Regions from separate parts of the Homo sapiens genome. Here all the other regions are linked to region 2. The links come from fine-mapping of genetic effects on gene expression. A gene starts in region 2. Each other region holds a variant in brackets. All regions are shown on one strand. Distances are between the middles of the regions. Region 1 overlaps GAK (cyclin G associated kinase). Region 2 holds the start of GAK (cyclin G associated kinase). Region 3 overlaps GAK (cyclin G associated kinase).

Region 1 (4,135 bases), 79 kb after region 2:
GAGCCCAGGAGGTCAAGGCTGGCCTGAGCTATTATTGCATCACTGCACTCCAGTCTGGGCAGCAGAGCAAGACCCTGTCTCCAGAAACCTGCAGCCAACATCTTTTTTTTGTTTGTTTGTTTTGAGACAAGAGTCTTGCTCTGTTGCCCTGGCTGGAGTGCAGTGGCATAATCTTGGCTCACTGCAACCTCCACCTCCCAGTTTCAAGCAATTCTCCCGCCTCAGCCTCCTGAGTAGCTGGGATTACAGGCATGCACCACCATGCCCAGCTAATTTTTGTATTTTTAGTAGAGACATGGTTTCACCATGTTGGCCAGGCTGGTCTCAAACTCCTGATCTCAAGTGACCTCCCAAAGTGCTGGGATTACAGGTATGAGCCACCCTGCCTGGCCAAGCCAATATCATTTTTAACCATCCTCCTAAAATCAGGAACAGGGCAGGAGTGTCTTTTCTCCACTTGTACTTGTCGGAAGTCCCAGCTGCTGCCATTTGGCAAGAAAAGGAGATCAAAGTTACACGCACTACAAAGGGAGAAATAAAATTACTCCTGTCTGCAGATGACACGATTGTCTGCGCAGGGACTCTGAAGCAATCTACAAAGATCTTTTAGAACTATGAGTTCAGTAAGGTCGCAGGATACCAGGTCAACACACAAAAATCTGTCCTATTTCTGTTTACTTGCAATTATATAAGGAAGCCAACATTTAAAACAGTACCATTTACAATCACCTTTTTTTTTTTTAGAAAAAATAAACATTTAGGTATAAATCTGACCAGACATGTCTAGGGCTTGTGTGGTGGGACTACAAAACCAACCGTGGCGAAAGAGACCAGAGGAGATGCGAGTGAAGGGACGGACGCTGCACTCACGGCCTGGAGGCTCCCGAGTAAGGTGGCCGTTCTCCTGTGTGCATCTGTAGCCTAACGCAGTTCCTACCAACGCCTCAGCAGGGATTTTCCTAGATACAAATGAGCTTACTGTACAGTGTATTTGAAAGACAGATGGACTAGATGCCTGGAATAGTTTATTTTTTTGAGATGGAGCCTCGCTCTGTCGCCCAGGCTGGAGTGCAGTGGCCTGATCTCGGCTCACTGCAAGTTCCCTTACCGGGTTCACGCCATTCTCCTGCCTCAGCCTCCTGAGTAGCTGGGACTACAGGCACCCGCCACCACGCCCAGCTAATTTTTTGTATTTTTAGTAGAGATGGGGTTTCACCGTGTTAGTCAGGATGGTCTTGATCTCCTGACCTCGTGATCCGCCCGCCTCGGCCTCCCAAAGTGCTGGGATTACAGGCGTGAGCCACCGCACCCAGCCATGCCTGGAATATTTTTGTAATGGAAAAATGAAATGGGAGAAGTCACTGTTCCTGGCTTTGAGGCTTACTCTGAAGCCACAAATCAACATTGCGGCGATGGCAGACAGACGCGTCTGTGGAGAGAAGAGAGGACTCAGGCCACACAAGAGAGACCAGCGGAGCTTTGACAGAGGCAGAAAACCCGTTCATCAGATGGTCTGGAGCACCTGGGCAGCGGTAGGCAAAGCCCTAAGCCCTCGTTCTACAGAACAGCTCATCAGAATGCAGGGCCTTTAGGTGAAAACCTTTGTGGCCTGGGGCTGGGCAGAGTTCGTAGACTCGCCACCCAAACCACACCCATAAGAGGACAGGTGGACCCAACTTCAGAGCTCTGAGCATCTGAGCTGC[G/A]GACTGGGAGAAGATATTTCCAAACCACCTATTTGACAAAGGACTCATCTACAGAATATAAAAATACAGTCAAAAACAAACTGAAAGCAATCCAGTTAGAAAATGGGCGAGAGCGCAGGGTCCTCTGCCTACGAAAACCAGAGACCTTTGTTCACTTGTTTATCTGCTGACCTTCCCTCCACTATTGTCCTGTGACCCTGCCAAATCCCCCTCTGCGAGAAACACCCAAGAATGATCAATTAAAAAAAAAAAAAAAAGAAAGAAAATGGGCGAGAGACGGCCGGGCATGGTGGCTCATGCCTGTAATCCCAGCACTTTGGGAGGCTGAGGCAGGCGGATCACCTGAGGTCGGGAGTTCGCGACCAGCCTGACCAACATGGAGAAACCCTGTCTCTACTAAAAATACAAAAATTAGCTGGACGTGGTGGCACAGGCCTGTAATCCCAGCTACTCGGGAGGTTGAGGCAGGAGAATCGCTGGAACCCGGGAGGCGGAGGTTGCGTCAGCCGAGATCTTGCCACTGCACTCCAGCCTGGGCGACAGAGCAAGACTCTGTCTCAAAAAAAAAAAAAGAAAATGGGCAAGAGACATGAAGAGACCTCCAGCACATTGACATCCGATGGCCAGGAAGCACAGGCTGAGACACCCAGCATCACCGAATGCTGGCGCGGAGGAGGCCGGAGCGCGGAGGAGGCCCGAACACGGAGGAGGCTGGAGCGTGTGTCTCACGCATTGCCCGGGGGGCGAGCCGCGTGCCTCATGCCTTGCCGGGGGGACTTGCCGGGGGACGAGCCGCGTGCCTCACGCCTTGCCGGGGGGACGAGCCGCGTGTCTCGCGCATTGCCCCGGGGGCGAGCTGTGTCTCATGCATTGCCAGGGTTGAGCCGTGTCTCTCAGGCATTCCCAGGGAGTGACAAGTGGCAGGGCCGCTCTGGAGAACAGGTGGTCGGTTTCCTACGAAGCTAAACACACAGCTACTGAGCTACCGTGGGACATTTATCCCAGAGAAACGGAAACTCTCATTCACACACAAGTCCGTAACAGGCGTTCAGAGACGTGTCTGTTGTAGCCAAACAGTGGCATCAACCCAGGTGTCCTACAGGTGAACGGTTCAATAGGTGGTCTGCACACCACGAGATGGCCCTTGGCAGGGAGGGGGAGTGGCGGATGCCCCGAGCCCTAGTGAAGAGTGCCAGTCCAGAGGCTGCAGCTGTTGGTCCCCTTCTAGAACATAACTAAGATGACAGTCTGGGCATGGTGGCTCACACCTACCATCCCAGCCCTGTGGGAGGTGAGGCCAGCGGGTCTCTTAAGCCTAGGAGTTTGAGACCAGCCATAGTGAGACCATCTCCAAAAAAAAAAAAAGATGACAGAACTGTAGTGAAGCATTCAGGTCGTGATTGCTGTGGTGCTGAGAGGAATCCGTGGTGCGGTCAGTGGCGCGGCCCCGCACTCACACACACGAGTCCAGCTGGCCACGTCTGGTGCATCTGTAGGTGGCGCGGCTGCCCGGGCTCAGTGCTTCTCTGAGGTTATGAGAGACGCCCTCCCTGGGGGATGCTGGGCGCAGGTGCTCAGGGTATTTACAGCTTCCTGCTATTCTGATTATTCCAAAATAAAAAGTTAAAGGATCGGGCCAGGCACGGTGGCTCACGCCTGTAATCCCAGCACTTTGGGAGGCCGAGGTGGGCAGATCACGAGGTCAGGAGATGGAGACCATCCTGGCTAACATGGTGAAATCCCACCTCTACTAAAAAATACAAAAAAAATTAACCGTGCGTGGTGGTGGGCGCCTGTAGTCCCAGCTACTTGGGAGGCTGAGGCAGGAGAATGGTGAGAATCCGGGAGGTGGAGCTTGAAGTGAGCTGAGATCACACCACTGCACTCCAGCCTGGGTGACAGAGCGAGATTCCGTCTCAAAAAAAAAAAGTTACGGGATCAGCCCTGATTTGATGTGCTGCGAGAGGCAGTGGCCACGTGACAGATGGTGGTGGCCCTCTAGGACGCTACAGACGTGGGGACACTGCCCCAACCCCCGTGGACAAGCCCCGGGTCTGCCTTGGCTCCTGGGGGTGACGTGGGGACACTGCCCCAACCCCCGTGGACAAGCCCTGGGTCTGCCTTGGCTCCTGGGGGTGGGGTGCTGCCTCCACAGCTGCCCTGTCCTGGTGTCTGCCCTCCATCCAGAGTGTTCCCGTCGCCCCAGCACCTGGCCTGTGCTCCAGCCCCTGGAGACCTTCACACGTGTGGGTGGAGCCGGCACCTCTGGACGGCCTCGAGTGATCGGTGTTCTATTTTGCAAGCGCATGTTTTCCAATATACGTGGTGCTCTGCGTTATAGAAACAGTAGTTGCCCCTCATGGACAACCAGATGCCGAGTTTCCGATCTCCATCTCCACAGGCTCACCAGCTGGATTCCCTCCTGGGGGCTT
Region 2 (4,135 bases):
TCATTAAGATAGAATTATCTTATTATTCCTCTTTTTTCTGTACCAGCAAACCTTCTCTCCCTTCCATCCGCTTTAGGCTGCTCAAGAATCTCTCATCTTAAAACATCTCAATACTACATCACCCTTGTAGCTCCCTGGAGCTAAGGGTGCCGAATTTGTTGGCCTGAAGTTGTTCATATTCTCTTCCACAGACAAACATTTTGAGTTATCTCCACTTGCCATCTCTACCTCATCATCTCTTCATCCCTCTACGGTAATATGTAGCTTCCACCTCATTACTCCAATGAAGCTATTCTTGGTGAGGTCACCAATGATCCCTTGTGAATAAATCCAACACATATCTTCCATTTCTTTTTCTACTTGACTTTTAAGTGGCATTCGACACTCTTAGCTGCACTCTCTGCCCCGAACATCCTCGTTCCTTGGCTCTGTTACGACACTCTCTTGGTTTTCTTCCTCCTTCACTGACTGCTCTTTCTCCACAAACTGTCTATTCTCTGAAGATTCTAACCTCTTTATGTCTAGTACACCATCTCTGTTGGTCCTCTCTTCAGCTCCTAGAGCCAACTGCCACCTCTATGCTGAGGATGCCCAGATATCTGTCTCTAGCAGGGATTCTTTCCTGAGCTCTCTATCCTTCTATTCCACAGTCGACCAGACAAACGCACTGGCTGGAAAAGCCATGACTTGCGTTGAATTGCAGTTGTATCACTTGTTGGCCCTGGCCGAATAATGGCATTGTTGAGCATATTTTCTCATCCCAAAATAAAGGGGGTTAATTATACTGTGCTTTCTTCACAAAGATGTTTTCACTACAATGAACTATTACAGAAAAGGGTGTTGTAAGCAATAAATCAGTGCCTAAACTAAGCTATTGCTACTGTTATTTTTGTTATATATATTTTTAAAGATGTCATTTGGCTTCATGCAATACTTCATTCCATAACATAGATAAGTGTTCCAACGAGCTGAGGCTATTATCTTTTAATGATAAAGATAACAGATGTTAGCTTCTGGGACGGCTAAGAGGCTGATGTGAGCTTTAGAATCCATTTTTGAGTTGGAGAACAAATAACTCTGTTGAAGGGGTTGCAACCTTAAATGACTATAGGAACCAGGCAGGTAACATACATGAGCCCATCTGGTCAGGCAAATGACTGTGTCTTACCTCAAGGGACCACTCTAGGTAATTGGTAACACACATCATTTTGGGTCCAATATTGACAGGTTTGATTTTTCCACAGAAGCTGGAAAACTAGGTTTTTAACATTTAGGCCTTTCAATTATTATTATTATTATTATTTATTTTTTGAGGCGGAGTCTCAGGCTAGGGTACAGTGGCGCCCGCCTCCCGGGTTCAAGCGATTCTCCTGCCTCAGCCTCCCGAGTAGCTGGGATTACAGGCACCCGCCACCACGCTCGGCTAATTTTTGTATTTTTAGTAGAGACGGGGTTTCACCATGTTGACCAGGCTGGTCTGGAACTCCTGACCTCAGGTGATCCGCCTGCCTCGGCCTCCCAAAGCACTGGGATTACAGGTGTAAGCCACCGCGCCTGGCATCAGTCTTTAAATGATAGCAACTAATTCACCTCCTGCTACCCACTCCCAACCCCCAAATACTGTGTGGGCCAAAAACTAAAAATGCATTGTCTGTGAGCCATTTCCTTATTATCCTATAAGGAAAGTCACCATTTCATCTCCAAATAGTTGGGCATTACGAACCCTTCCAAGTGGTTCATGAGGATTTGCTTTTGCCTTGGAAAATGTCAGGGTGAGAACGAACCTTGAGGGTCACAGGGCAGTCTCTGCAGTGTTGTGGTTGCCCAGGACGAAGGTTTTTCTAGCCCACGGCTCCCACTACTGGTCACTGCCCCAGGCCAGACCCTGGCCCTCTCCTCGGAAGACAGAGCAATGCAGCAGCGTTTCCCCTGCAAACTGCCTGCCTGGCTGCTGGGAGGGGGCTGCCAACCTTACTCACTAAGCGTCACAGGAAACTCCGACCTCCATGAGACGAAAACCAAGTATTTACTGAAAGCTTAACGCACGCTAACTCCTTGCTCCTTAGCCAACTGAGAGAAAAATTCGCGAACCCATTCGCAAACGCGGCGCTAACAGCAAACGGGAGGCTGACTCCACCCAGAGGATGGCGAAGCGCTTAAACCGGAGACACCTGAGAAGGAGCCTCCCACAAAACAGACCATGTGGGGAACGGTACCGGGAGCTGGACTGGGGCGCTGAACTACCTGGGCGGGAATCGCCTCGGCGACTGTTCCGCGCGCCTCCGCTTGAGTCAGCCCGGCCGGGAGCTTGACAGCCGGAAGTTCATCGCAAGCCCGGCGACGCCGCGCACGCGCTGTCTCCGTCAGACCTCCGCGCCTGCGCGCGCAGCCAGGAAGTGAGGCCGCGGCGGAGGGGACGGGGCTAGGCCGGGTCGCCGCCTGACGCGACGCGTCCTCACGGGCGCCTACGTCACGGCGTCGAGGCGGAAGATGGTGCACCTCCGGGCCGGCGGTTGCTGAGCTGACCCGGACGGCGAGGGAGCGGGAGCCCGAGCCCGACCACTCCGGCTGCCGCGGGGTGCGGCGCAGCCACCGCCATGTCGCTGCTGCAGTCGGCGCTCGACTTCTTGGCGGGTCCAGGCTCCCTGGGCGGTGCTTCCGGCCGCGACCAGAGTGACTTCGTGGGGCAGACGGTGGAACTGGGCGAGCTGCGGCTGCGGGTGCGGCGGGTCCTGGCCGAAGGTGAGGCCCCGGGTCGGCAGCGCGGGTGCGGCCGCGGAGTGTTGTCTCCGGGACGCTGGGGGCAGCGTCAGCCCGGAGTGGAAGGGCGTGGGTTAGGGCTGGGGAGGGTCCCAGCGGGATCGTGGGTCAGGGTCGGCCAGGGGAGGGTCTCTGCCGAGGGCGTGGGTCAGGGCCAGGCGAAGGTCATAGCGCGGGCGTAGGTGAGTGCCTGCTGGCGGTGATTGCGGAGGGCGAGGCTGGGACCGGGTCGGGGTACTTTCTTGTCATAAGAGTAGGGTCAAGTCGGAGCAAGGCCTGGGGCTTGGGGAACCCCCTCAGGGTGGGTGGGGGAAGATGTTACGGTGAGGTGGGGGATGGTGGCAGGCAGGGAGCTTGGGTGGGGACCCACAGCGGAGACTGAGGGACGGTGCCTAGAAGGCCGACAGCTGGAGTCAGGAGGTGAGCGGTGCAGGAGGTGGGTTTAAGCCTTGGCCTTTTGCCGGACATCTGGGGTTATTGAGCAGGCAGGGACAGGACTGGACTTTGGAGGTTAGGGCTGGTTCTTCTACAGTCCAGGGAACTTGAGAGTTGGTGGGTGCACACGTGTTGCAGGTAGTTGCGGTTGTAGCCTGGGGGGTGGGGGGGTTGGCCGAGGGTAGACTGGGCTGTGTCTCGTGATCCCCCTTCGTCTTTCAACACCTCAGTGTTTCTCTTCCCGGTGAACATCTACTCGTGTGATTCCGTGTGTAGTACAGGAAGCAGAGCCAGTGGTTGTGACCTATATAGAACTTGCAGAGTGGACAGGTCACTCGGCTTAAGTCCTCTTGAGTCAGTCTTGAGTCAGTTTTGTCTCTGCATGCTATTTCTAGCTCCCTGGATGTCCTCTCCGTTCACACGGAATCGATCACCAGTGCCAGTGGGTCCCATTCTCTCTTGTGGATTTTCCTTACATTTTTTGTCCAGTGGTGCCTGGAGGTGTGTCATATTTCACTGGCTGTGAAGTTTATGGGCTAAACACAGTTGACTTGGGTGCGGAAGCGTAACTCTATTCTGCTGTATTGGCACAGGGAGAGGGAGTGAAGCGACACAAAAGCCCTCACCCTCACCAGCTCCCTGGTACCTCTCAGGGCTGGAGGGTTAGCCTGTCCAGGTGCCTGCTCTGTGACCAGACAGGAGACTATCCCAGAATTCTGATTATCACAAAAGGCCTGCGGAGACATTTTGACTGTAGCATTATCACACACTTTGTCTCCATTGTGGTCAAAACCAAACAGATTTTGGGTATGATTTGGTCAGAAAGTCTAAGCTCTTCTTTCAGAAGTGGGGGCTGAAGTGTGATATTCTTTCACATCAGTTGGAAGATTTCTCTCAGATCAAATCATTTATTCTGAAAATACTAGGTGGTTATCTTCAT
Region 3 (4,135 bases), 42 kb after region 2:
CCCCGGGGGCATGCTGGGACCATTGCCAAGGTCTTCGCACTCTGCACGCGCTCCTCTGGCCTCCTTGAGGTTTGCAGGCGCCTTTCTAGATTCTTCCCCTGACAGGACAGCATGAATTGCTCCTGTGTCTTTGTTTCTGGGGTCTGGTGTCCAAGCCAGGTCAGCCAGCCCTCAGCTCTGGGCGTCCTGGGGTGTCCTGAGTTGCTCTGCGTCTGTGTTTCTGACCCTCAGCTCAGCTCTGGGCGTCCTGGTTGCAGTTGTGTCAGGGCTGGGCCTGGCCAGGGTCCACTCCCAGGCACCGGTGGCTGCTGGCAGCATCAGGGCCTGGGGGCTGGGAGACTGAGGCCCACAGGGCCGTGTGCTTTGTGGAAGTGTGAGGCCTGGGAGGGAGCAGCACGTGTTGGCTGGAAGATGCTTTCCTCAGAGTCTTTTCTGACCCAGCCGTGGACAGGGTGCAGCATCTCCATCACCAGATCCTCGAGGCAGAGCAGACACGCGGCCCGGCCCTCACCCACGGGGAGCAGGGAGGCCCCTGGGCATCCCAGCTCAGGGCCCAGTCAGGACACGCAGGGCCCCTCTGCAGATCTCGCAGGGGTCTGTGTCCAAGGACCCAGGACTCTTGGCTCCTGCATTTTGTCCCCTTTTCAGCCCTTGGGTCGTTTCCACTCCCTGGTAGCTGGAAGCCGGAACTTCCAGGGGCCACTGCAGTGGAGCTGACCCAGGCGGTGGGTGTGGAGCGTGGGGAGAAGGTCAGAGCTGCTGCCCGGAGTCCCTGTCTGAGGACAGGACCCTGTGGGACAAGGAAGGTTTGGGCTGTGTGGAGGGTTTGCAGTTCCTTGGGGGCCGCGTGGGTACAGAGACCTGGGAGCAGGGAAGTGCTGGGAAGCCCAGTGCAGACGGGGAGAGGCTGTGGTGCCCCTCTCTGGCGGCCATCATGGTGGGTGCACCAGCAGAGGGAGCCCTGGTGCTGGGTGCTGGAAGCATTTTGAGGTGTGGGGCGCTCTGAGGCGGGAGAGTTGATGTCACTGGTGGCCTCTCAGCAAGCTTCCCTGGGGCTGTCAGAGAGCGGCAGGAAGGGATCACTCCTGGGCCGTCCTGCTCTTTAGCAGCCTGGGCCTCGTGTCCCCCTCGCTTGGTGGCTCTTTACAGAAAATGCCTGCCCACTCCCCCGGAGGTCACAGAGGACAGTGGGCTCGCAGGGGGGTGTGGGCCTCTTGCTTTGTCGAGTGCGCTGGAGGGATTCTTGATGGGGCGGGAGGAGGTGCCGCTGGGCAGATGGGCAGAATCAGGCCCCTAGTGATGGGGCGGGGTCCTCAGTGCTTCTCATCTGAGTGCTTCTAGGCCGGGACCCCGTGGGGACAGACGTTAGACCCCTGCTTAAGCCAACCGACTCCCCCAGAAAACACAGTCCATGATGGAGCTGAGTTCACAATGAAATAAAATACTGCCCCCAGGAGGTAGTGAGCCTCACAGGGTGGCCCCCAGAACCCAGGAGCTGAAGTGATGGAACATCCTGGGACAGACAGGCCATGTGTCTGCTTAATATGGTTGGGCATGCGAGGTGGAGGCTGCAGTGAGCCCAGATCATGCCACTGCACTCCAGCCTGGGAGACAGAGTGAGACTCCGTTTCAAAAAAAAAAAAAAGAAAAAAAGCCTGGGTGCAGTGGCTCACGCCTGTAATCCTAGCACTTTGGGAAGCCGAGGCAGGCGAATTGCCTCAGCTCAGGAGTTCAAGACCAGCCTGGGCAACGTGGTGAAACCCCATCTCTACTAAAATACAAAACAAATTAGCCAGGCGTGGTGGCGCATGCCTGTAGTCCCAGCTACTCTGGGAGGCTGAGGCAGGAGAATTGCTTGAACTCATGAGGCGGAGGTTGCGGTGAGCTGAGATCGTGCCACAGCCCTCCAGCACTGCAGCCTGGGTCACAGAGCAAGACTCTGTCTCTACCAAAAAAAAAAAAAAAAATGTTGGTTGGACAGACTGGGAAGAGAGAGAAAAGGAAAAGGAACAGAAGCTGTAGCCCAAGAGTCTGAAAAGCTGGGCTGGAGTGCTGAGCACCTGCAACAGCCCCAAGCGAGGCAGGCCGCGGGGTGAGGGGATGAGGGCTGCGTGCGTTTGTTGAGTTCCAGCTGATGCTTCAGCCTGTGGGAAGTTCCTCCCTTGCACTGTGTCATAGATCAGGGGGCAGAAGGATGGGCTCTGAGGGCACCCATACCGTACCTCTGCCCGACGTGGGCAGGCGTGAGTTGTCAGTTTAGAGAACTGACCTCTGCATTTTCATTGTCACAGCTCCTGGAGCAGAATGGAGGCTACGGGAGCGCCACACTGTCCCGAGGGCCACCCCCTCCCGTGGGCCCCGCTGGCAGTGGCTACAGTGGAGGTGAGTGCCCTGTCCTGTGCCCGCCACCTGTCCCTCGCTCCTGCTGCACCCCGGGCACCCGCAGCACATTGGGATGGAGTCTGGGGTCCTTCTCTCCCGGGGCCTCCTCTCCCACCAGAGATGACTGTGAGGTCAGGGTCCCTGAGCACACCCTCAGGTTC[G/A]GCAGTTCCCTGGGGCTCACAGAGCTCAGCAAAGCTGGTGTCTTGGTGCAGTTCAGGAGGGGGTCAGGATTCGGACTAAAGCCAGCCAAGGGAAGAGGCTCCAGGGCAGGGCCCAGGAGACCGGGCCCGAGTGACCAGGCGGCCTCGCTCAGGGGTTATGTGGGAGGCAGCCTGCGCCGTGGCCAAGACCCCAGCATAGATCACATTGTCGTGTCTGGCACAGCCCAAGGCCCCAGGGAAACAGACACCCCTTTTGGGGCTGGAGGGGGCATCCCAGGTTCCTTCCCAGGAGCTGGGAATGAAGGGCCAGGCCTGCTGTGGGCAAGGTGAACCATTTACTACAGTAGCGACCCTGAGGCCAGGGGGCAGGAGCAGGCATTGGACAGTGGAGGGCGGTGGGGGAAGACAGTTCTGCCGCTAGTGTGAGGTGGCCCCTTCTGCCGCATGAGGAGTGGGCACCTGTGATGGGCCTGGGTGTCCCTGGAGGGCCCTCAGCTGGTGAGGAGTGGAGAGGGCCCTGGAGACAGACGCTGCATGCTCTTGGAACTCCGTGCCGGGAGTGTTCCAGAAGGTTCCGGGTGAGCCGTCGAGGACATGGCCCTGACAGGCAGCGGCTGGGTCTGCAGCTCTGCATGGCGCTGACCCCTCCCGACCTCGCCCCGCATCCCCACTGCGGTGTGGGAGGTTTCACCTGGGTCCTTCACCTCCGCTTCCCAGGGAGGAGCTCAGCTCCATGTCTGGGGCACCCCGGTCCGTGCAGTGTGGGTCCCACACATGCAGGTGTAGTGGCTGGCTGGGTCTCTGCTGGCTGGAGGAAGGGTGAGTCCTCGAGCTGCTGGGTTCTGCAGTGCCCCCATCTGCTCGGTGCTGCCTGGGCCTCGGTCTCCTGTCTGCATGAGGGACTTTGGCCAGGTGTTTTTTTTTTAACACCACTTGTGCCACCAAAGCCGCCTGTGAAGACCTCACTCGCAGGACCCACCAGGCCAGGGGCCACCACTCTGCCTTCACGTCCAGGGTCATGGTGGCCTGAAGCTGTGGCCGTGAGGCCGGACTATCCCCACAGACAGAGTCCCAGCCCCAGCTGTGCTGAGGCGGCCACATAGCCCTTCCGCACCCAGATTGACCATTTCCTGGGTCTCTGGAAAGGCTGAGGACAGGGTAGACCTGCCAGTGCTGAGGCCTGGCTTCCCGCTGGGTACGTGTGGGTCAGGGGCCTGGCCATACCACCCACTCCCTGCTCCTGCTGCCTGGGCCCAGCCAGCAACCTGCACCTGGGGAGGTGGGACCGAGCGCCTGGGGAGGTGGGACCGAGCGCCTGGGGCCTGGGCCCAGCCAGCAACCCGCACCTGGGGAGGTGGGACCGAGCACCTGGGGCCTGCTGAGACTGTGTCTCCCTGCAGGCCTGGCGCTGGCGGAGTACGACCAGCCGTATGGCGGCTTCCTGGACATTCTGCGGGGTGGGACAGAGCGGCTCTTCACCAACCTCAAGGACACCTCCTCCAAGGTCATCCAGTCCGTCGCTAAGTGAGTGTGAGGCTCCAGAGCCCTGGACCTGCCGCACGCTCGTTCCAGGCTGCAGCCCCGGCCCTTGC

The links. PIP is the estimated chance that this variant, and not a neighbour inherited with it, causes the effect.
Region 1: its variant is the best candidate, but not a certain one, in a credible set for the expression of GAK in whole blood (INTERVAL, PIP 0.88).
Region 3: its variant is the best candidate, but not a certain one, in a credible set for the expression of GAK in whole blood (TOPMed, PIP 0.57).

What each region holds. Positions count from the first base shown.
Region 1 is chr4:851,944-856,078 of GRCh38, reverse strand. GAK (cyclin G associated kinase) reads left to right here. Exons shown (of 28, transcript NM_005255.4): 25 at 4,105-4,135. Among named protein-coding and RNA genes, the nearest start is that of CPLX1, 28 kb to the right of the region's middle. The variant G/A (reference allele first, on the strand shown) is at 1,704.
Region 2 is chr4:930,650-934,784 of GRCh38, reverse strand. GAK (cyclin G associated kinase) reads left to right here and starts at 2,469. Exons shown (of 28, transcript NM_005255.4): 1 at 2,469-2,742. The coding sequence starts at 2,598. TMEM175 (transmembrane protein 175) reads right to left here and starts at 2,325. Exons shown (of 11, transcript NM_032326.4): 1 at 2,245-2,325. RefSeq lists an enhancer at 1,884-2,203 and a silencer at 2,364-2,683.
Region 3 is chr4:888,779-892,913 of GRCh38, reverse strand. It overlaps GAK (cyclin G associated kinase), which reads left to right. Exons shown (of 28, transcript NM_005255.4): 10 at 2,292-2,382; 11 at 3,944-4,067. Among named protein-coding and RNA genes, the nearest start is that of GAK, 41 kb to the left of the region's middle. The variant G/A (reference allele first, on the strand shown) is at 2,544.